Linked DNA regions of Homo sapiens. The protein of the gene in region 1 interacts with the protein of each later gene in a pairwise test. Each region holds a gene or a part of one and is shown on either strand. Other genes may lie near its edges. The genes, in order: RBBP8NL and CHIA.

What was found.
Region 2: the proteins of RBBP8NL (region 1) and CHIA interact in binary tests that used the Homo sapiens proteins (3 or more experiments, as listed by UniProt).

What each region holds. Positions count from the first base shown.
Region 1 is NC_000020.11:62,421,175-62,437,167, forward strand, and holds the start of RBBP8NL (RBBP8 N-terminal-like protein), read right to left. Parts: upstream 6,366-15,993; 5' UTR 6,286-6,365; intron 1-6,285.
Region 2 is NC_000001.11:111,286,015-111,293,850, forward strand, and holds the start of CHIA (acidic mammalian chitinase isoform c precursor), read left to right. Parts: upstream 1-4,836; 5' UTR 4,837-4,936; intron 4,937-7,836.

The DNA.
Region 1 (15,993 bases):
GGTGGCTTGTGCTTCACGCGGTCGGGTGGGGGAGTGTGTGTGTTTGCCGTGTGTGTGCACGCCCGAGCCAGTGTGCATGTGTGTGCCGTGTGTGTGCATGATAGCCAGTGTGCGTGTGTGTGTGCCATGTGTGTGCACGCCCGAGCCAGTGTGTGTCCCATGTGTGTGCACACCTGAGCCAGTGTGCATGTGTGTGTGCCATGTGTGTGCACACCCAAGTCAGTGTGCGTGAGTGTGCGTGTGTGTGCCGTGTATGCGTGATTGCCAGTGTGCATGTGTGTGTGCCGTGTGTGTGCATGCCCAAGTCAGTGTGCATGTGTGTGCTGTGTGTGTGTGATAGCCAGTGTGCATGTGTGTGCACACCCAAGTCAGTGTGCATGTGTGTATGCCATGTGTGTGCACGCCTGAGCCAGTGTGCATGTGTGTGGCATGTGTGCATGATAGGCAGTGTGCATGTGTGTGTGCCAGAGCCAGTGTGCATGTGTATGTGCTGTGTGTGCATGCTCAAGCCAGTGTGCATGTGTGTGGCATGTGTGCATGATAGGCAGTGTGCATGTGTGTGTGCCATGTGTGTGCATACCCGAGCTAGTGTGCGGGTGTGTGCCATGTGTGTGCATGCCTGAGCCAGTGTGCATGTGTGTTTGCTGTGTGTGCACACCCGAGCCAGTGTGCATGTGTGTGTGCCATGTGTGTGCATCTGTTTTTGCTCTGTGTGTGCGTGCCCAAGCCAGTGTGCATGTGTGTGTGCTGTGTGTGTGCATACCCAACCTACTGTGGAACCACTGGTGCGTCACCTGAACAACTGTGTCGGCCTCCTCCCTGCCTGGCCTCCTGCTCAACCTTCCCTGAACCCCCTGCCTCCCCCCATCTCTTCCAGGACCACTCTCCATGGTGGCCATCCCTGGGAAGCTCTGGTCTCTGCTCAGATGTGCACCGCTCTGCTCAAAATCCAACTTCGGGCTCGCAGCTGGAGGCCATGCCCAAGGCCTCGCCACGGCCAGCCCAGCCCAAGTGGATCACAGAGCGGAACAGCCATGGCTGCATCTGGGTTCTCAAAGGTCAGCCTGGAGACGCCCACGTGAGGGTCCTGTGTGCAACATCATTCTACAGAACCGTCCCGAACAGGACCGCCTAACCCCATCCCATGACGGGTGGAATATGGTGGCCGCCCAGCCCCATGCCCATCCCAGCGTGGCCAAACCACCCAAGCCAGGCTTGAGGGTGCATTGAACACAGAAAGAGGCACTTGCCCTGGGGCCCTGGAAGTCAGGTGGTGGGCGTCTTTGGGGGTGGGGCTGGGGTGCCTCTAACTGAGGGTGGCAGGCCTTGGACCCCGAGAGAGGCCTTGGGACCCCGAGAGAGGCCATGGGGCCTGGGGTGGGGACGGGGACTGGGGTGGGGATGGCGACTGGGGTGGGGACGGGGACTGGGGTGGGGATGGGGCCCGGAGTGGGGATGGGGCCCGGGGTGGGGATGGGGACCGGGGTGGGGATGGGGACCGGGGTGGGGATGGTGACTGGAGCCACTTGGAAGGAGGGTGTCCTAACTCTTGCCGAGCCCTTGCACCTGTGATCAAGCATTAGTGCCGAGCCTGGTGGGGCAGCAAGGGGTGTGGGACAGAGTGTGGCCTGTGTTCGGGGGTGGCTGCAGCGTCCCCAGGGGCCCCTGACAGGGCTAGTGGGGCTGCATGGAGGGCGGAGCACCAGGATGCTGGGCTGCAGAGGCTCAGTCCACAGACCCGCCTGGGCTTTGGGGCCTCCAGCCACCCTCGGAGGGAGTGGGGGTGACAGTTGGCGGCTCTGTGTTGGGTGGGTGAGGGATCCTGGGACTAGGGAGACTTGGGGCTTTCCTGGTGGGAGGCTGGGAGGGATGTCTTTGCTGGTGAAGGGGACCAACAGGACGCTGAGCTCCAGAGGTGGGGACAGCATGGAGCCTGCCGGAAGCAGGTCACGTGGCCAGCATCAGTGGTTCTGACCCTGTTTCCCGAACTCCGTACACACTGAGACCTTCCTGACAGCCCACGGAATCTTGACCACACCACGAAGACCTCGCTCCAGATGGGGAAACTGAGGCTCAAACAGATCAAGCCTCCCGTCTCAGTCACCCAGTGGGAAGTGGGATCTGGGTTGTGCCCAGCTCCTGGGGCTGTGGGTCTGCATGCTCTGCCTGTGTGGACTGGGGCGTCCTCCCCATGGCTCTGGTGCACCCAGCTGCACTGGCTTTTCCTGGCCAAGGGGGCCCCTGGGAGGAAGATGTCAGAGCCGGGGCCTCCCTGGGCTCAAGCAGCTGAGGAGGGCCAGGAGGGGGCGGAGCTGCAGCTCCTGAAACTCCCCCCAGACCCGCCCAACAGGCCACTCTTCCCTGGCCCCCAGCATCTGCCATGTGGGCTGGGCCGACGCCCATAAAGGAGCCGCCCAAGGGAGCCCATGGTGCCTGCGGGCCTGGGAGAGGTCTCTGGGGTCCACACGAGAGGTGGGCTTCCTTCCCAGTGAAGTCACTGTGGTGCAGAGGCTGGGACGGAGCCTCTGCTGTGCCTCCCACTCACAGGATCCTTTCTGTGCCCGAAACCACCTGCAGCACTCCTAGAGTGCTGGAGAGCTCCGGGGAAGGGATGGGAGGTGGAGGGAAGTTGCAAGCCTTGGTGCTTTTGGGGAGAAGAAATGAACCAGGATTGTAGAAATTCACCCAGACCCGCACCCGCAGCCTTGAGCCAGGGGTCAGCAGCGGGGTCAGTGGGGCTGGCTTTTTCTTCCCGAGTCAGCCTTCTCTGGGTTTGTTGGGCTTGCCAAGGGCAGCTAGGGGTGCTGGGGCTGGGGGAACTCGGAAGGAGGGTCTCCTCCAGGCCTGGGTGGGGGCTGCAGTGGGGCTGTGATGGGGGAGCAAGCCTACCGGGGCGGGGAGGGGCTGGGCTGAGGCTCATGGGGGGCTTCACAGGGCTGGGGTGAGAGAGCTGAGCTCTGGTCCAGGGTCACCCTCAGCCACTCCTCCCACTCCCAGACCCTCCCACTCGGGAGTCCAGGCTGGAGGGTCTCTGTGGGTGCTGAGCCCCCTGGAAGGAGTGGGGGAAGGGGAGGGCAGGCTAGTGAGCCGCTGTCCCACCTGCTGCTTGCAGCTGGGCCGTGGGGGGGGCAGGTGTGAGGGGCGCATGTCTGTCCCCCTCGACACCACTCTCACCCCACCATGCCTTGCCCTCTGCTCCATTTTGCCACTGAGAACACGACCCAGAGGTGGCGTCTTGCCCACGGTCAAAGCTAGTGAGAGCCGGGCTGGGCTTCAGCTAACCCAGGCCGGCAGCTCCGCCTCCTGCAGTGAGGTGCTACTGGTGCCAGCACCTTTGCCTTCGGGGGACTGCTCCTTAAAACCAAGGGGCGACGTGCTGCTCTCACCAGAACGGAACAGAGCCCATCCAGTAAACGGGTGCCTCTTATCCCCCGGACAGGGCCCAGGAGAGCCCTCCATGGGGAGCCTGAGGCTGGCAGACCACCTTCCACCTCATGTCCTCATCCAGGGAATGGACATGCACTGTGGGCCCTGCCTGTCCCTCAGGACTCCCACCTCCCTCTAAAGGCCCCCCAGAGCCTGCACCTGCCCTCCTAGGGTCTCCACCCACTCTCCCAGGGCACTCTGGAGTGGCCACTCAGAGGGGGCAGAGGTTTGCTGTTGTTAATCCTACCTCACGCATTCTCAGAGCCCCAGCAGAGAGGGTGCACCCCCCCCACCCGCTGAGCTGGCTGGGGCGGGGCAGGGGTCGCATTCCTGAAGGGTGCTGGCTGGAGAGTCAGTCTGGGCGGAGGGTAAAGGTGTGGGCTTCCCAGTCAGCAGCCCTGGTGGGGCTCTCGGACCCATCTCTGCTCTCTATGCGGCCTTGGGCAAGTTGCTTTTCCTCTCTGAGCCTGTTTCCTCACCTGGGGGTGACAGCACCCCTGCCCCTGTATCAGGCTGCTTAGAAGCTCCTCACAGGTAATGCCTGTGTGGCCAGGAGCTCCGTAGACAGGAGCGCTCAGTGAGCAGCCGAGGGAGACCCCGATTCACCTGCGCCTCCCTCATGACCTGCGCCTCCCTCATGTGGGACCCCAGGTGTCCAGCAGTGCTGACGGCAGGACCCTCTGTGCTTGGACAAGGTCAAGTCTCATTGCCACAAAGGCCTTGTGCAGGAGGACGCAGCCCTCCCCACGCTCAGGGCAGAGGTCCGGCTTCTGACGGTGATGACACTCATCCTTGGACGGCTGCTCACTACGGACTCCAATGGGCTCACGGCATCTCTGTGGCTACACCCAGGGGAGATGCCACCTGCCTCCCACACACAGGCCAGGGAATCACAGGCCCAGCTGTGGCCCTGGCAGGACTGGACATTGTCCGGCCGAGTGCCAAAACCCACAGTGATGCCTGTTCTTACCCTGTCCTCTGGGAGGCCGGGCCCCCTGAGCTCCTCTGCTGTCTGAGCAGGAGGCATCCGGGGCATCACTGGGCTCCCCGCCTCTCCGAGGGCACTCAACCAGAGAAGCCGCCTGGGCACCAGTGCTCCAAGGACGTCTGCCAGGCCGGCTGCTCTCCACCCCAGCCACCGACCCCCAGCAGGCTCTTTGGGGCAGGAGTGCGGAGCTGGACACTGGTACCCTCCGTCTCTGAGGCCTGGGCTGTCTGTATGTCCATCTGACTGACTGCCCACCTATCCAGGAGCAACGGTGATGGCCACAGCAGTAGCAGTGGCAGTGGCAGTGGCATAGCAGTGGCAGTGGCATAGCAGTGGCAGTGACAGTAGCAGTAGCAGTGGCAGTGGGAGTGGCATAGCAGTGGCAGTGGCAGTAGCAGTGGCAGTGGGAGTGGCAGTGGCAGTGGCAGCGGCAGTGGCATTAGCAGTGGCAGTGGCAGTGGTAGCAGTAGCAGTGGCAGTGGTGACAGTGGCAGTGGAAGTAGCAGCGGCAGCGGCAGTGGCAGTGGCATTAGCAGTGGCAGTGGCAGTGGTAGCAGTAGCAGTGGCAGTGGTGACAGTGGCAGTGGAAGCAGCGGCAGCGGCAGTGGCAGTGGCATTAGCAGTGGCAGTGGCAGTGGCTGCTGTTGATCACATACTGTTCTGTGTCAAGCACCACACCAGGCTTTTTCCCACTTGCATGGGCACTGAAACCATCCTGCAGCTTTGCTGAGGAAGCCAAGCTCAGAGTGGTGCCCTCTGCACCTTGACCCGCTTCTCCCCAAGGGATTCCCCTGCCCCTGTCCACCTCCTGGCTGCCCCTGTGGAACACCCACTGCATAGCTAGGTTGGGCACATGCATGTGGCCGGGGCCCACCTGGCCTTGGAGGAAGTGCTGATTGTCTCATTCTACAGGTTTGGACACTGAGGCTTGAAGCAGATCAGAGATGAGCAGGTGGAGCAAGATTTGGACCTGGACATGGCCTCAGAGTCTCCTCCCACCCTCTGTGGTAATGGGCAAAGCCTCTCCCATGGAGACTTCGGCCAGGTCGCTTGTCTGGCCGTGCCTCAGTTTCTGTGACTGTAGAACAGATGTTGGTGGTGAGCCCTGACCCAGGCTCCTGTGCACACACCGCCGCAGGGCCCCCGGGACAGCTGCACACGCATGTTGTGTGTGCACATGCACTCGTGTACCCCACACGCGCGTGCGCCCGTGCACTCGTGTGTACACATAAACAGAGGAGCCAGCCGAGGTGTCCCTGCAGCTCAGGCACAGCAGCCCTGCAACCTGACTCCCTCCCGGAGGTGGAGGTGGGCCGGGCTGCTCTCCTGCCCTGCCGGCTGGCTCCCTGAGGCCTGGCCCGTGGGGGAGGGGGTTGAGCAAGGCCCGCCTTTGTGGCTGCTTCCCCACAGACACAGCGGCAGAGGAGTCCCCTGCTCAGTGCCCAGCTGCGGGTGCTGCACCCCTGCACCACCCTCACCCCTGTGGCTGCGCCCGCTTATCCTCTTGTGAACCTGGATGGTGGGGCGGGACAGGCCCAGGGTGGAGGGCGAGGCCACCAGCCTGTCCCTGATGCCCCAAGCCCCTCAGCAGACCATGGACACTTCCTGGGCCCTGGTGCCAGACTAGGCCTGGCCTCTTTGCACCCAGCTCCTGCCAGGAACGCCCACTGAGCTCTCTCCGTTGCTAGGTCCCTGGACCAGGAGCAGCCTTGTGCCACCCCTTAGGGAAGACGTCCAGTCCCACCCACCCCCGCGGCTCTCCTCGCAGGAGTCCAAGCTGGGCCTCCAGCCTCCCTGGTGAGCACCCCAGCCAGGGATCCCAGCTCACCCGGCTACTTGGGTGGCCTGGCCCCGGGGTCCCGGGTACTCACATGGCTCCTGGCCCTGCCTCAACCTCTGTCGACCTCTGCGCGGAGTCCCCCACGCTCTTCACAGGGAGAGAGAAGTGAGCGGGCTGTGAACCTGCACAGGCAACAAGACAGGATTTTGGCCAAACCCGCTTGACAGGTTTTCGATTCTCCCAGCCAGGAGCAGAAAGGAGGCAGAGACTGCCCTGAGCCGCCAGGCGGGTTCTGCCATCTCGCAGAAAGTGGCCGGACAGGTTGGGTCTGAAGCCACATAGAGTTGGGATTGTTTCCTCATAATCACTGTGAGGCTGGGCTGCAGGAGCCAAGCTGGTTAGCACTGAGAATCCAGTTTGGTGCCTGTGACACGGAGGGCCCGGGCGGGGAAGGGTGGGGGGCTTGCAGGGGTGCCTGGGTCGGGGGCTGCAGGTGGGAGTGAGCAAATGTGCTGTCTCGCCACCTCGGGACAGGTGGTAGGGCCTCTGACACAGAGTGGTCCTTCCTGCTGTTCACAGCTCAGCTCACCGTGGGCTGACCATAGGTAGGTGACAGTCCCCTTTCTGGCCTCGGTTTCCCTGTCTGTAAATTGGGGATAATAAGCTCAAGAGCTGTCCCTGCCAGAACCCAGTGGACAGAAATCCAGCAGCTGCTATGGGAAGCGACCCGCCCAGCCTGCCCCGCCCTGCCTGGGGAAGCAGGCCTTCTGCTTGAGGGGGACTGGGCGCATGCTGGGCCTCTGGTCTGCGCAGTCTGCCCGGGGTCTGTGAGTGCTTGTGAGTGGGCTTCTCCAGTCTCCAGGTAGGCTGGGTGCCCCCGGCCAGGTGGAGCCCAGGGGGGCAAATAGGCTGGGGGCTGGCCTGGCCCCGGGTGGCACGGCCCAGGTGCTGGAGCAGCCTCACACTGTGGTCTCGTGTGTGTTCCCTGGACAGCAACACTGTGGCTGCGGGGTACAGCCCTGACCCCCTCATGCCTTGCCCCCTGTGTCCTACCCACGACCCCTCCCCACTCCCTCCTCCCCGCCTCCACCTCCGCCTCTGCCTCATCCTCAGCCTGTCTTAGCTCTGCACGGAAGCAGAGCGGGGGTTCCCGAGTCCTTGGGGCCATGATCCCCAGCGCACCCGAGTACCCCAGGAATGCACGGGGCTCAGAGGAGGAAGCCTGGGAGCCTGGCCTGTAGCCGCTGCCGCGAGGGGAGGACGGACTTCCTGCTCCCTGGCAGGGCCCCTGCTGGTGGCTGGTGGCCAGCTCTGGGTTTGGGATGAGGGCTGGGTCATCTCTGGCCCCACGATGCCCTCCCACTCAGGACCAGGCTCTTGGGAGGGGGTTGTGGTCAGCATGGGCCACTCCAGCTCTGGCTGGCCTGGGAACTTCGTGGAGGCCCCTCCTCCGGCCACCTCCCTGTTCCTGGCTGGGCCCTTTGTGAGTGGGGTCTGCTTGCTGCTGGCGTGTGTTTTGTGTGTGCCTGTGTGGGGACTGTGTGCACGTGTGTGTGTGTGTGTGTGTGGGGATACGAATGTGTGTGCATGTCTTACATGTGTGTGCCTGTGTGTGCATGTGTTGCACGTGTGTGTGTGCACATGTGTGCGTGGACATGTGTAGCTGCTTTGTGCTGTGGTCTGGATGTTTTTTGTGTCTACCCCAGATTCTCGTTGAAATCCTAACGCCCCAGGCAATGATGTTAGGAGGCGGGGCTTCTGGGAGATGGCAAGTTCGTGAGGCTGCAGCTCTGCTGGGGGATCAGTGTCCTTCTACAAGCGGCTCCAGGGAGGTCCCTTGCCCCTTCCACCATGTGAGGACCCGAGATGGTGCCGTCTATGAACCGGGAAGTGAGTCCTCTCCGGACGTGGAACAAGTTGGTGCCTTGATTTTGAACTTGCAGCCTCCAGGTATGAATGTGAGCTCTGGGCTCACTGCCTGTGGGGAGCCCTGCCTCACAAGGAGGGGTCCCTCTGCATCTGCCATGCATGGCTGTTTCAATCAAAGCTGCTGTCTAACACCACCGGCTCGACCTTGAGTTCCTCCCTGAGCAAAGCCAAGCGACCTCCTGGACTGAGCCAGTTTTCGTGCCTGCCTGCCCTGGCTCATTGGCCAGGGACCCCACCCCGCCATGTCCAGGCCTTGGTGATACAGGACAGAGGTGCCCGTGCAGGTTGTGCCTGTGGCTGGGTCCCCAGGGAGAAGGTGGCAACCCCAGGCCAGCAGCCTCCTACCCTGAACTCCAGGCAACATCGTCGGCCCCCTGGCACTGCACCTGCACTGTGGGCAGAGAAGGAGGGAAGGCTGGGAGAGGAGGAGGAGGTCGAATGTCGCTGGAGGTCGGCGTCCTTCTGCAGCCGTGGGTTTGTGTGCCCCTTTGTTCATTCATGCAACCATCCAAGACCCATTTCCTGGCTGCCCACCAGGCCCTGTCCAGGCTCTGGGCACATGGATGGCCAAGAACGTGACTCACACATTTACGGGGCTTTTGGCTGTGAGAATCGGGCACACAGAGGGCACTGTCTGAGTCTCAGTTTACTTGTCCCTTGCAGGGCTGATGAGGGTGAAAGGGGTTCCTCTCCTGGTACCACTCACCTGTTCATTCATTCAGCCGATGTCTGTTGAATCCTGATCAGCCAGGAGCTGGGGGGTGTGATGGACACCCAGGCACCGGCGTCCGGGCTCGCAGGAAGCATTGCAGAATGAGGCAGCAAGGCCTCAACACGCTGCTGGCAAACCGTGGCCAGGTTTCAGCGTGGGGGCTGCTCCATCGCCCCATTATACAGCTGAGGAATGAGGCCCCAAGTGTGTGTGTGGCCTCCCAGCCCTGGCAGCCACCCCCACCTGCACCTGAGGGGCTGGGGCTGCTGGGCCTGGGGTGAGGGACCAAGAGGGCTCTTCATGGCCCCCTACACCTGCTTCCTAGGCCAGATGGGGGCCCAATGCCCCACCCCAGAGGTGAGGCAGCCTTTTATCTCTGAGCTGGGAGGGGTGGGAGATAAGCTTCAAAGGCATCTCGCTGTAAAACGCACCTTTAAAAGCCGGCCCTGCTGCCTGGTATTTGTGTTACTGGAGCGATAGATAAAGGGTGGGGTGGCCAGTGCAGTGGCCAGGTCAGGCCAGCCCTGCAGCCCTGGCCCCCAGATAAATGGGTCACCTATTAGCACGGCCCTGCAGGAATGGGACTGCCTTCTGTGACAACCGGGGCCCATCCCCACCCTCCCTGCAGACAAGCCCTTGCTGGCCCGGCTGGGGGGCATCCTGATGGCGGGTGCTGTGTGCCCATGGGGCCAGGCTGCACTGGGCAGGAGGGGTGCAGATGTGGGCCCTGCCTGGGCACTTGGGAGGGCGGAGGCTTTCTTGGTGGGGGGAAGGATCAAGCCCCCCGTCTTTCCTCCACATGGTCTCACTGCTAGTCACCCTATTTTATGTTCTCATGATTTTTATTTGTATAGCTTCATGGGGTTTAAGTACGATGATGCTGCATTGAGACGTTGTACTGTGTGAAGTCAGGGCCTTCTGTGCATCGGTCGAGGGTGCAATGCACACGGCACCCCCGAGCAGCCACCCATCCTCCCTTCCCTCCACCCTGCGAGGCCCCGTTGTCCGTCTGTCCACACTCTGCTCCATGAGCACACGTGACTTAGCTTCGCCTTGTGAGTGAGAACCTGCAGTATTTGTCTTTCTGTCCGAGTTGTTTCACTTAAGATAACGTAGGCACCCTCTTTTAAAAATTACTTTTTGCTAATACAAGAACTGCAAGGATGCCCCCTGCCCCCTCCTGCGAAGCACTAAACATGACAAATAAGACCAAAGTCTCCTTTTATTGTCGCGTCTCATCCCCTCCCCAGGTGAGCCGCTGCTTGGGGTGAGCATGCTTCCTGCTGGATGCTTCTCTATGTAAGCACCTGCCTGAGTGTCAGCCCTCTTAAGGTGAACCGCTCCGTGTCATTCGTACATTCACAAGTTTGTGCCGCCATCATCGTGATCGGATTCCAAAACATTTTCATCACCTCCAAGAAAGCCTTGTACCTGGCAGCAGTCACTGTCTCTATGGATTTGCTTATTCTGGACATTTCATAAAAATAGAATCAAACAGCATTTGGCTCTTCGTGTCTGGCCTGTTTCTCTGAGCACGATATTTCGAAGATTCAGCTGGGTCTCGCTCCTGTTCCTGGCTGAAGCTGAATAATATTCCAGTGCACGGCTGGACCACAGTCATCAACTGACGGACACTTGGTGGTCTCACATTTCCACTGGTGTGAATAGTCCTGCTGTGAACATGCGTGTGCGAGATTTTGGTTGAACACTTGTCCTCAGTCCTCTTGGGTGTGTATCTAGGAGTGCAATTGATGGGGCTTATGGTAACCCTAAGTTTAACTTTCGTTTACTTTTTTGAGACAGAGTTTCGCTCTTGTTGCCCAGGCTGGAGTGCAGTGGCACGATCTCGGCTTACTGCAACCTCTGCCTCCAGGATTCAAGTGATTCTCCTGTCTCAGCCTCCGGAGTAGCTAAGACTATAGGCATGCGCTACCACGCCCAGCTAATTTTTGTATTTTTAGTAGAGACGGCGTTTCACCATATTAGTCAGGCTGGTCTTGAACTCCTGACCTCAGGTAATCTACCTGCCTTGGCCTCCTAAAGTGTTGGGATTACAGGTGTGAGCCACCGCGCCCAGCCACTGTAGTATTTTTAAGAAGTCTAAATTAATGGGAAAAATTCACAATGAACCAAATAACCAAGTTTTATATAAAGACAGGATTAGGGTGAGGCAGGCGAGTCCCTTACTCTTGGGGCTGTGAGAGTGTGGGGTGGAATCGGCTCCAGGGTCCCAAGGTGTGGCCGGAGAATGGGCCTGGTAGGGAGACCTGGGCATGGTGCCCGTCTCCGGCCTCTGTCCTGTAAGGGTTTGCCTATGCCTCCGCCTCATCAGATTGCTCTAAAGATAGGACACAGCAGCACACGGGGCCCAGGCTGGGGTGAGTGGACCCCTCCCTGAGACCTTCATCTGCCACCGAGGTGAGGACAGCCATCAGCCTCCTCAGAGCCTTAGGGTCTGATCCCTCCTGGACCGGCCCACAGATCCCCAACGGACTGGAGTCCCCTGTGGCTGCTCCCCTCCCTCTCCCAGCCAGCTCTTGGGCATCCAAGCACCCCTCTGCAGGGAAGCCCTCCATGACTGTAGGTAGGTCAGGCCTTTTCCCAACAGGCCTGTAAGATGCAAGTCTTGGGTAGAAACTGTGTATTGGCTCAGGGGTCTTCAGGGTGCTACCTTCTTGAGACAGGAAGTGTTTGCCCGTTCATTGCTGTCTTGGCCCCTGGCATATGGTGGTACTTCATAAACATTTCTTCCTTTCTTTTTCTCTGAGGCAGGGTCTTGCTCTGTTGCTCAGGCTGAAGTGCAGTGGTAAGACCATAGCTTGCTGCAGCCTTGAACCCCTGGGCTCAAGTTATCTTCCTACCTCAGCCTCCTGAGTAGCTGGGACCATAGGTACACGCCACCATGCTTGGCTAAATTTTTAAAAATGTTTTGTAGAGATGGGGGTCTCTCTTTTCTGCCCAAGCTGATTTTGAACTCCTGGGCTCAAGCGATCCTCCCGCCTCGGCCTCCCAAAGTGCTGGGATTACAGGTGTGAGCCACCGTGCCTGGCCCTGGTGGGTTGTGTCTTACCCAGAAAACTCAAGTGCTAAGAGGCAAAGCCTAAAGGTTCCTCTGGGCTGAGACGGGATGGGCCCTGCTTGGTGAGAACTGGGGAGTGGTTTAGGGGAGGGCTGTGTTTCCTAAAGAGCCGACAGAAGCCTTTTACTCTGGCTAAACTATTTGTTCCTATACCTTTGTTAAATATTATGAAAATGAGGGTACCTGTGGAATGGGGACCCTGTGTGTGGAACTGGGGGGATGGCTGGGAGGGGTCTTCCCAGGCCAAGTCCTGGTTGGGCTCTTGCCTGGGATGTGTGGGGTGGAGGCTCCGGGGAGGGGGCAGAGGTGCCTGGGGGTGAACCAGCGGGTACCCCGGGCCATTTTGACCTCTGACCTCAGCTTCCTTTTTGAGACAGTGGGGCTGCCTTGGTGCCTCTCTCCTGGAGGGTGTGGGTTAAATGAGAGGGGTTCTGTGCCAGGGCCCAGGGCTGTGCCACTCACTGAGGGTCCTAGCGACACTCCTGAGATGGTTCTTATTTTGTCACCATTTTCCAGGGCAGTGCCAGCCTTGGCAGACGGGCCGGACAGAGGAGGGATGATGGCTCAGGCTGGCAGGGGCTGCCACGGGGCAGCGATGGCCACCTCGAGCCTGGCCAGTGCTTCTGGACTTCCTCTCTGCTGACTTTGTTCCCTGGCTAGAAACAGTTGTGGCAGCGCTCCCAGACCGGGCGTCTGCACGGAGTGGCCTCAGCTTCCTTGAGCTGTGGGAATTTAACGAGAGTAAAATGGGACCATAAATCTCTGTCGGTCGGGATAACTTGATCCGTGATTTTGGAGGGCAGGCCGGAGCAGGGACAAGGAGGTGTCTGTGATGGGAGCGATCCCCGGACTGAGCTGGGCTGTCTGCTGGCACGTCACAGATAATAAAACCGCGTCGTCCTGCAGCACACGGAGACTGTGTCAGATCGAGATGTCATAACCTGTGCCTTGTGGCCAGGAGCCTGGTGTCGGGGAGGCACGGTCCATACATCACAGATCCCACGCACATCATAAAGATACATTAATGGTCTATGTGTCTTTAAAGAAATACTAATATTGTTGTTTTATGAGAAACTAGAGTTGAAAATATTAAAAGTCAGAATTTTATGGCCTAAAAGAAAGTTAAATGATGAGGATGTGGGAAGGGAGACTGAAGTATCCGTCACCGCCCGAGCCAGAGTCCTGGATGGGGACATGGCGGGGGAGGGGCCGCCTGGCTTTGATGAACTTGGCCAGCTCTGGCAGCCTCTGTGTGAACCTTCGGCTCAGTTAGAAGCTTCCTCCTTGGGAAGGGTTTGGAAAGCCGAGATAGAGGACGAGGGCATTGGGGTTGTCCAAACAGTTGCATGGCTCGGCAGTGGGACACATGGCAGGAACAGGGCCTCCAGGAAGCCCAGGCCCTCCTGTTTTGGGGCATGATCAGGGAGCGTGGATGGGGACACCCAGAGGACTCGGTCTCACCCAAGCCCTTTCCAGAAGGAAATCCTCCTGGCTTGCCACATGCTCCTTGTCGGATGACAATTTCCTCTGGTGCAGGTTTAAATTTTTATGTGACAGATCGGCTTGAATGACCCTTGGAAAAGGAGCAAGTGAAGGGGCAGTGGAAGGCACCGTGGATGGCACCGTGGATGGCACCATGGATGCCTGGGGTGTCAGGGGCGAGGTCCTGGCCTGAGCCATGCAACCACATGTGGGGCCGAGTCCCCCAGACCCAGGGACCAGCTCCTTCCACCCTGGAATCTGCGTGCAGCAGGCGCTGATGAGCGTCTGTGGACGAGGGATGGATTGACCTGGGTGAATGCGCCTGTGGGCGAGGGATGGACTGATCCCTTTTCTTCGCTGGCTGTGCCCCTTACCCACGGCTGTGCTCTGTGCTGGAGTCAGTGGGGAATTCGGGGCCTGAGGGCTCTTTGCAGCTCTCTCTTGCCCCATTGTGCCTGCGTGAGGACCCCTGGGACACGGGCACACCCAGGGTGAGGATCTGCCAAGGCTTTGCTCAGGGTTTAAGATGCTTATTACTAAGGTGAGATTTCCATGAAATAAAATCACTCATTTTAAGGGAGTCAGTTCAGGGGTGTTTAGCGCATTCACTCTGTCATGAGCCAGCACCTTGACCTAGTTCCAAAACATTTTCCTGCCCCCAAAAGGAGACCCTGTGCCCATTAGCAGGTCCTCCCCATCCCTCCCTCAGCCCTGGCGACACTGCCCTGCTTCTGTCCCCGGATTTGCCAGCTGGGTGTTTCGTGTCACCGTATCCACGCCACGTGCAGTCTCTTGTGCGTGGCTTCTTTTCCTGAGCACTGTGCTTTTGAGATTCACCTCCATGGTAGCTTGCACCTGTGCTTCGCTCCTGTTAAGTTCTGGGCTGCATGGACGGACTGCAGTGATCTGCTCATCCGCTGATGGGCATCTGGGTGGCCTCCACTTTTGGCTGGGAAGAGGCTGCTGTGGGTGTCCAGGCACACTCCTGCCTTCGGCTCTTTTAGGTGTTTTGCTCAGGATTTGAGACACGTTTTCTCTCCCTCAGAGGAGCACCTGTTGAAGAATCATGACCTCTATCGAGCATTTACCTGGTCACGGACATTTTGCTGAAGAATTCACAAGTTCATATAAGGACACGCTTCATCTCAAGTGTCCAGTTCAATGAGTTCTGACAGATACGGACAGTCGTGTGACTCCAGATCACAATGTAGGACGTTCTGGTCACCACGGGCTCCTGGATGCCTCTTCCTAGTGAGTTTCACCCCATGCCCTGCTTTCTATTGCAGGAGATTAATTCTCTTATAGGATTTTGTATAAATGGAACCACACTGAGGCGGGAGGTGGGACTTGACCCTAGAGACAGGGCTGAAACTCTGGACCAGATTGAAGACTGGCTGAGACAGGGAAGAGGCATCTCTCCATAAGATACCCACCAGTGCCAGGCCAGTTTACCATTGCCACGGCGACACTTGGGAGTTACTCCCCCTTTCCATGGTGATGACTTGGAAGTACCACTCTTTTTCTAAAAATTCAGAATGCAGGTATGAATATGAGTGCAGCACTGCCTCTGAGCAGCTGCTCTGGGCTCGCTGCCTGTGGGGGAGTCCTACCTCACAAGGAGGGGTCCCTCTGCTGCTGCTGTGCACGGCCGCTTCAATCAAAGCTGCTAACGCCACCGGCTCACCCTTAAATTCTTTCCTGGGCGAAGCCAAGAACCCCTGTGGGCTAAGCCCCAATTCTGGGGCTCACCTGCCCTGCAGTGGTGCTCTGTGTGGCTCTGATGTCTGCCAGAACAATGGACTGGAGGCCTGTGTGTGTGGCACATGTGCCTTGTGTGGGTGGCACTCTGCTCACCCATTCACCTGCAATGGCCGTCTGGGTCATTTGCACTTTTTGGTGATTGTGAACGGAGCTGCGATAAACATCCGTGTGCCGGTTTTCCAGGAACCCAGGCGCGGATGGCCAGGCCCTGTGATAAGCATCTGTGTAACTTTACAGGAAACTGCCCATCTGCTACCCACGGTGGCCATGCCCTTTCATTCCTGCCAGGGCACAGGAGCGTTCCAGTTCCTCCACGTCTTTTCCAACACTTGGTATTTTCTGCCTTTTAAATTTTAGTATTTCTTGTTGGTATTTGTCGCAATTTAAAGATCAGAAAATGGAGGCTCAGAGAGGTGAAGTGAACTGTCCAGGCTGCACAGTGGGGAGGGCAGGGTCAGAACCTGCCCATGACCTTTGGACTGTGACCCCACCTCTCAGACAGAGCTGGTCTGTGCTGGCCCCTGAGGCCCCAGACTGACCGCAAAGGCCTTCACTTCACACCACAGCCCCATGCCCCAGTGCCCCCTAAAGCCCTCAGTGGCCCCCCTGCCTCCAGCCCATTCCTGCCCTTCTCCTCCCTGCTCCAGCCATGCTGGTGCCTTCCTCTCCCCAGGGCCTTTGCACAGCTGCTCCTGCTGCCCCTCTCCCCTGGTTTTATCCTTCCCATGAGCCGGGAACAGCTCCCCTTGGCCAGCATGTGCCCTCAGCATTCATGCAGAGTGATGCATTTGAAATGACAGCAAGTGGCAGTTGATACCTTTCTGTCCTGAAAAGCG
Region 2 (7,836 bases), on another chromosome or scaffold:
TACCTTCTGCTCCTGCTGCAGCTGGTGATAACATTTTTCAGATATCACCTCACCCAGCCTCAGAAGTTGTTGTGCAATAAAAGGTTGAGCATTACTGTACAATCGCTTCTGCTTCTTTACTGTAGGATCTTAGATGTAATTGATCCCTATTTCCCAATGATATACAGTTGCTCCACCAGCACCCAAGCCTGCAGCATGCACTGCTAGTCCTGGATGTTGGGTAGCGGAAGCAGGGGGATTAAAGGAAAATACATGGTCCCTTCATTCTCAAAACATGTATTCAGATGAAGGCTGGGGAGCCCAAGAATGTAAGACTCAGATAACAATGACCCATAAGCAAATGTCATTTTAAAGTGATTGATTTGCCCTTTTGGCTGAGAATGCACAATTAGGAGGCTATTGCAGTGATTCAGGGGAGAGGTGCAGGCTCAGAACAAAGTAGTAGCAGTAGAAGTGGTCAGAGGTGATTGAATTTCAGCTGTATTCTTAAGATTTGTTAAGCCAGCAGGTTTCTTTATGGGTTGCATGTAGAACGTGGGAGACAAAAAGGGGAGCCAAGGATAATTTCAACATTTTGGCTTAAGAAATTGCAAATATGAAATTATCATCAACTGAAATGGAGAAAGCTAAAAGTAGAGTAGATTATGAAGGAAGAGCAGAAGTTCAACTTTGGACATGTTGAATTTAAGATTGTTATTGGGTTTCTAATTGGAGATGTGGAGTAGATAGTTGGACATAACATTTTTAGAGGTAGTTGGTATTTATAGTTGGACATAACATTTTTAGAGGTAGTTGGTATTTAAAGTCAATAGATTAGATGAGATCATTAAGGGAGACAGAGAAAGGAAAGCATTCAAGGACTAAGCCCTGAGCATTTCAGCATTCAGAGGGAGGCTGGAGAGAAGAGTAGGAACAAGTAATGAAGACCAAAAAAGGAGGGCTAAGTGAGGTAGAAGGAAAACCAAGTGTCAAGTATCCTGAAAGCCAAGGAAAGAACCATATTAAGGAGGAGAAAGCGATCAAGTTTGTCAAATACTACTTAGGTCAGGTCAGATGAAGTCTGAGAATTGACCATTATGTTTAACAACCTGTAGATCATTGACAAACTTGACAGAAGTGGGGTTGGTAAACATCTTGGTGGCAAATGCCTGAGTGCAGTAGGTTTCAGAGAGAATGGAAAGGTAAGAATTGAAGACAGTAAGGATACAAAAACCTGTCTTATATGTGTTAAAGGGAAGCAAAAAATGGGATTAAGAATAAAAGATTATGGAAAACAGAAGCTGAATTTATGTTTTCAAACCCACATTTACTTATTTAGAGATATGGGAGATAAAAATCTAACATTCTTTCCATACCTCTCACTTTCTTATTTTTATTATTATTTTCACAGAGTCAAAAAATTTTTTTAACTTAAAAATTTTTATTTTTGGGACAAGGTCTCATTCTGTTCCCCACGCTGGAGTACAAAGGCACGAACATGGCTCAGTGCACCCTCGACCTCCTGGACTCAAGCAATTCTCTAGCCTCAGCCTCCTAAAGTGCTGGGATTACAGGCATGAGCCACCACATCCAGCCCCAAATTTTTAATATCACTTTGTTTTATAACAGAACTGAAGTCCTATATTTAAATCAATGCAATATTCATCCCCTATACTTACACTACAGCTTATCCAATATTCATTTCTTTAATTATCTTGTTGTTTGTTTTGTTTTTGTTTGCCAAGAAGGACTTGGAGTATCTTCCATTTTCTTGCATGTATGAAAGTGCCTGACTGTTGCCTTTATACTTGATTGGTAACTTTTTGGACATAGATATTGGCTCACTCTTTTACTCAAAATTTTGTAAATATTACTGCTTTTTATTCTGGCATTGAATATTGAGCTAGTGTTTTTCCTATGGCTCTTTCATTTACTTTTTCAGGTTTGGATGTTTTGTAGTTGAACAGTTTTTTCAAGTAGTTCTGTGGCTGCCACAGGCCTTAAGTTCTTTTATACGTGAGAATATCTGCCTGTCTCCTCGGTTCTTGAAAAGTATACTTCAAGAATATTATACTTGGTAGAGTATAATACGATAGGCTTGTACTTTCTTTTCCTCAGAACTCTTCAGGTGTAGACAAAACTTCTTAACATTATTTCAAATCATCTCTGCCTTACCTTTTAATTCCAGTTGAAGCTACAGCCACCAATTCTGCATAAGCCTTAATGGTCTTCATGGCGTTATGGAATCTTACCTCAGATCTGTGTTGTGTACTTCTTGCTACCCTTCCTAGGGCTTCTGAGATACAGGTTTCCACTCAAGCAGGTACAATCTAGACATGCAGAGGGGTTACTGTCACTTACAAACATCAGGGAAACGTAATGTTTCCACCTTTCCTCCCCTGATGTTCTAGAAGCACATTTTGTAAGACTTTTAACACCGTTCCAAAGGGATAGAGCATTTAGTTGTTTCTACCAGTGGCTAATATGATAAAAGCATGATTTTATTGGCCCTCCCTTCTTCCCTGTTTCACTCCCCTGTCTCTTACTTATTCTTTGCATTCCACTCCCAAATTACTCTCACATGAGCTACTTCCAGGTGAACTTAGCCTTAGATAGTAGGCATTGCTCCACTGTGTCCTGGCATTGAATATTGTTGTAGGGATGTTTGAAGACAGTGGATAATCACTACCCTTTCTTTAATCCACACTTTTAAAGTTATTTGATTTTTTTCCTGTGAGTGCCTGAAGAATTCATGATTTATTCTTGAAGTTCAATAACTTAACAAGGTTATACCTTGATTATGATGGTTTTTGTCAATTTCTCCTATAAAACAGTTGAGAGGTAAGATTTAACTTGCCTGAGTTAACAGACCTGCAGGCGGCCTCCTGGAAAAGAAAGTTGGCCTGTTGCCTCTGGAAACCAGCTATAATCTATAGCCTAGGTCCTAATGCAATCCATCCTGGCAGAGAGCTGACCATGGTGAATGAGAACTTCAGCCAAGTTTACACCAAGCAGTTGTGCATAATCACGGGGTTGGATTACACCAGAAGAAAGCCAAGTGTTCTCCCAACAGATGAATGCTAAGGTAGTAGATAAGACTGAAAGCCAAGGTTCTGCTATATCATACTGCTATTAGATCCCATATCCTAATCTCACTAAAGAAGAGTTTTGTTAAGAAGCTTAAAAGTCCCAACATCCAAAGCCCAGAGCCTCTTTCTCAGAGCTAGATATGTGCTATGTTAGATTGTTGTATGCTGCCTGAGAATAAAATAAACACCAGAGGATCACTCATCTGCCATCGCTTCTGTCTCTGACTTTTTACCCAGAAGTACTATTCCAGAAAGCCCAGTGTGCATGCTGCTTGGCTACTCACCCTGAATCACTTGACAACTGGTGTAGAGAGCTGGATGTCAGACTAGGGGCACCTACCATGGCCTTCTAGAAGTGAACCAAGGGACTTGGGATTTAAAAAGTGTTTCTCAGATGATCCCATCGCTTTCAAAGATTCGTATGGCAGTCATGGGGACTAGTCCACTAAATTCCTGAAGATACAGAGTGATAAAAGTGATACTGCGTAGTTAAGATCATCGAGCCTAGCATTCCATGATTGTTATTATTGGCCTTGGAAGAATTAGCTCTAAGGAGGCAGACCGAGGGGAACTTGACTCAGCATCTTGAATGAAATTACAATTTGAAAACTTTGGTGAATGTGAAATGATTTATATATGGTCTTATCCAAGCAGGATCAAACAAATTCCATCCTCTGACCCTCTTCCTATGACTGATAGGATCAGTTCAAGATGGCACAGGTTGTCATGTTATTAGGGTGTTATGAGCTCCAGTTAAATGGGTGCAAAGGGAAGGAAAGACAAAGTATGTGACTTATGAGGTTAGTTCCCTCATAACAAGTGAAGAAGATAATCTGAAATAGGCTGATTGAACTAACCGAACTTCTGGGTAGACTCCCACTATAGCTCCGTCTTAGAAAGTCTATGTGATTACTGCTTCTATATAAAGGGTTAAACATGATAAAATTGATGATGGTCCCTATCTTTGTCTATGGAAAAAAATATCCAGTGAGTTTTGGGGGAACTCATGACCCAAGTCATAATAGGAATTTCAGGCTTCATAAAGACATCATGGTTGAAGCAGAGGTGTTCTGTTTCCAGCAAAGCCCAACAGGAAGCTAACTTTTGCTTTTTGAAAGGAGGATTCCCCACCAGACTGGGAAGCAACAGCCTAGGCTCCAGAGTCGGACACTGGACTTAAGTTGTTATCAGATGAATTTGCTCAGCTGCGTACTGTTGTGTTACAAAATCAAATGGCATTAGATACGCTTACCTCAGCCCAAGGAGGGTTTTGCACCTTACTGCATACTGAATGTTCTGTGTATAGCCCTAACAATTCTCACAATATTACTCACAAAGCCATGTTGGGTGTGGTTTTTATTAATTGTGCTTTTAATTCTGCTGTACTTAACCTGTATCTGTAAACTATATCAAATATCCCTTCCCCATGTATCTGTAAGGGTATTTTCCTGCAATTGAGTATCAGATTGAGGCCAAATGTGGAGGAAAAGTTAAATATTAAATTTGAACTCAACTGAACATGGACACAAACAATGGTCACCAAGTCCCGGAACAGGTTGTGTGAGCCCCTTGAGGCGTTCATCCAGCACTGTTTTGGAAAAATCTCTATTTCAATCTAGTCCTATATGTTAGTTATTGAAAAAAATAGACAGTCTCAAAAAACAAGCTGACCTTTTTATGTTCCTTGAACCTAGTTGTGAAGGGCCCTTGTTACTGGGCCTCATGCCAAACAACTCGTTACAAAAACAGCTAGAGTCCCAGACGGTGCCAAAGCTTCATGAAACCTCCTCGTCTGTGCACGAACAGGTGGCCGACTCTGGAGCCCAGGCTGTTGCTTTCCAGTCTGGTGGTGAATCCTCCATAGTCTGGTGAGTGTAAATATATATATATCTTTTCCCTTCTCCCTTTCCCATTGCAATTTGATTGTTATATCAATTTGCTTATTATATCAAGTTGTTTATTATATCGTTTGCTTATTACATCTGCATTGCCATTTATGTGAGATAAAGGTTGTTTACCCTTAAAGGTATTGTGTGTGTGTCTTTTCTCCTCCCCTCACACATCTCTCACACAGATCATTTTATACCCAAAGGGATATAAATCATTCTACTATAAAGACACATGCACACGTATGGTTATTGCAGCACTATTTACAATAGCAAAGACATGGAACCAACTCAAATGCCCATCAATGATAGACTGGATAAAGAAAATGTGGTACATATACATCACGGAATACTATGCAGCCATAAACAGGAATGAGATCATGTCTTTGCAGGGACATGGATGAAGCTGGAAGCTATCATCCTCAGCAAACTAACACAGAAACAGAAAACTAAACACTGGATGTTCTCACTCATAAGATGGAGTTGGAACAATGAGAACACATGGACACCGGGAAGGGAACAAGAAACACTGGAGCCAGCTGAGGGGTTGGGGGCAAGGGGGGGAGAGCATTAGGACAAATACCTAATGCATGTGGGGATTAAAACCTAGATGACGGGTTGATAGGTGCAGCAAACCATCATGGCACACGTATACCTATGTAACAAACCTACACATTCTGCACTTGTATCCTGGAACTTAAAGTAAAATTTTTTTTAAAAAGGGGGGAAAAATATATAGCAAAATGCAACTGGAATTTCCAAATGAATTAGTATTTTATTTAAACATCTATATTTTAAAAATAATTGTAATAATGAGAATACATAGACACAGGGAGGGGAGCAACACACACTGGGGCCTGTCGGGGGGGGGTGGGGGTAGGGAAAGCATCAGGATAAAGAGCTAAAGCATGTGGGGCTTCATACCTAGGTGATGGGTTGATAGGTGCAGCAAGCCACCATGGCACATGTTTACCTATGTAAGAAACCTGCACGTCCTGCACATGTATCACGGAACTTAAAATAAAATAGAATTAAATTAAATCTTAAAAATAGTAATTGTAATAAATTTATATTTGAAACATGTAAGGTATTTAATTCACACACAATGTTTTGTGTGCAAACTCCCCTTTCCCCTATAATTACTCCTCAGCTATCCAAGGACTTGAGGTCTTCAGATTGGGAAAAATAACATTAACTAAAATTTATTAAATAACTAACATGTGCTAGGCCCAGTGCTAGGTAGGTTATCTCATTTAATTCTCACAACAACCCTATAAGACAACAACTAGTATTATCCATATGTAATACATGAGGAAATTGAGGTTCACAGGTGAAATAACTTGTCTAATGTCACATATCTAGAAAGAAGGAGAACAAAAATTGAAATATAAGTTAGCGATTCTAGAGACCATGCTGATATTCTGTTCTGTCATATGGCAACCTTTGTGCTGGACAGATGTGGGAGAATGCTCTCTGCAATTGACTGGCATTGGTTATTCTAACAGTCTTACCCTCTTTGTATGTGAATAAACTGGCATTCTCACTTACATTGACTGCATGGGCCAGTCTCCGTTATCTTTTTTTCCATGTTTTAAAAATGTTTTTCTTGTGGTAAAATAGACCAAAACAAATTACCAACTTAAATATTTTAAGTGTACAGTTCGGTGGTACTAAATACATTCATAATGTTCTTGAGCCATCTCTCCTTTCCATCTCCATAATTCTTTTCATCATGTAAAACTCCAGCTCTATACTCATTAACCTGTAAGTCCCCATTTCCCCCTCCCCCAGCTCCAGGAAACCACTATTCTACTTTCTGTCTCCATGATTTTGACTATTCTAAGTATCTCACATAAACAGAAAAATCATATATTATCTGTCTTTTTGGACTGGCTTTTTTCATTGAGTATAATGTCTCAAGATTCATCCATGTTGTAGCAAGTCAGAATTTCCTTTTAAAGGCTGAATAATACTTTATTGTATGTATATATAACAGTTTTGTTATCCATTCATTCACTGAAGGACACTTGAGTTGCTTGCATGTTTTAGCTATGGTGAGTAATGTTACTGTGAACATGGAAGTACAAATATTTCTTTGACACCAAGCTTTAAGTTATTTTGGGTATACCTAGAAGCGGAATTGCTGGATCATATGGTAATTCTATGTATGATTTTTTTAGGAACTTCCATACTGTTTTCCATAGCAGCTGTACCGTTTTACATTCCCACCAACAGGGCACAACTGCTCCAATTTTTCCACATCCTTGTTAACACTTATTATTTTCTGTTTTTTGATAGTAGCCATCCTAGTGGATATGAGGTGATGTCTCATTGTAGATTTGATAGGCATTTCCTTAATGATTAATGGCATTAAGCATCTTTTTATGTGTTTATTGGCCATTTCAATATCTTCTTTGAAGAAATAGATATTCAAGTCCTTTGTCCATTTTGAATCAAGTTGTTTGGTTGTGTGTGTGTGTGTCATTGAATTTTAGAAGTTCTCTCTATATTCTGAATATCTCTTATCAGATAAACTCTTTGCAAATATTTTCTACCATTCCGTGAGTTGCACTTTTACTCTGTTTGCATTGTCTTTTGATATACAAACATTTAAAATATTCATGAAGTCCAATTTGTGCATTGTATTCTTTTGTTGTCTGTGATTTAGGTGTCATATCCAACAAATCATTGGAAGTCCAATGTTATGAACTGTTTGCCCTATGTTTTCTTCTAAGAATTTTATACTTTTACATCTTACATTTAGGCCATTGATCTATTTTGAGTTAATTTTGCCTATGATGTTAGAAAATGGCCCAAAAACATCAATGGGGCCAGATGTGGTGGCTCATGCTTATAACTCCAGTGCTTTGAGAGGCCAAGGT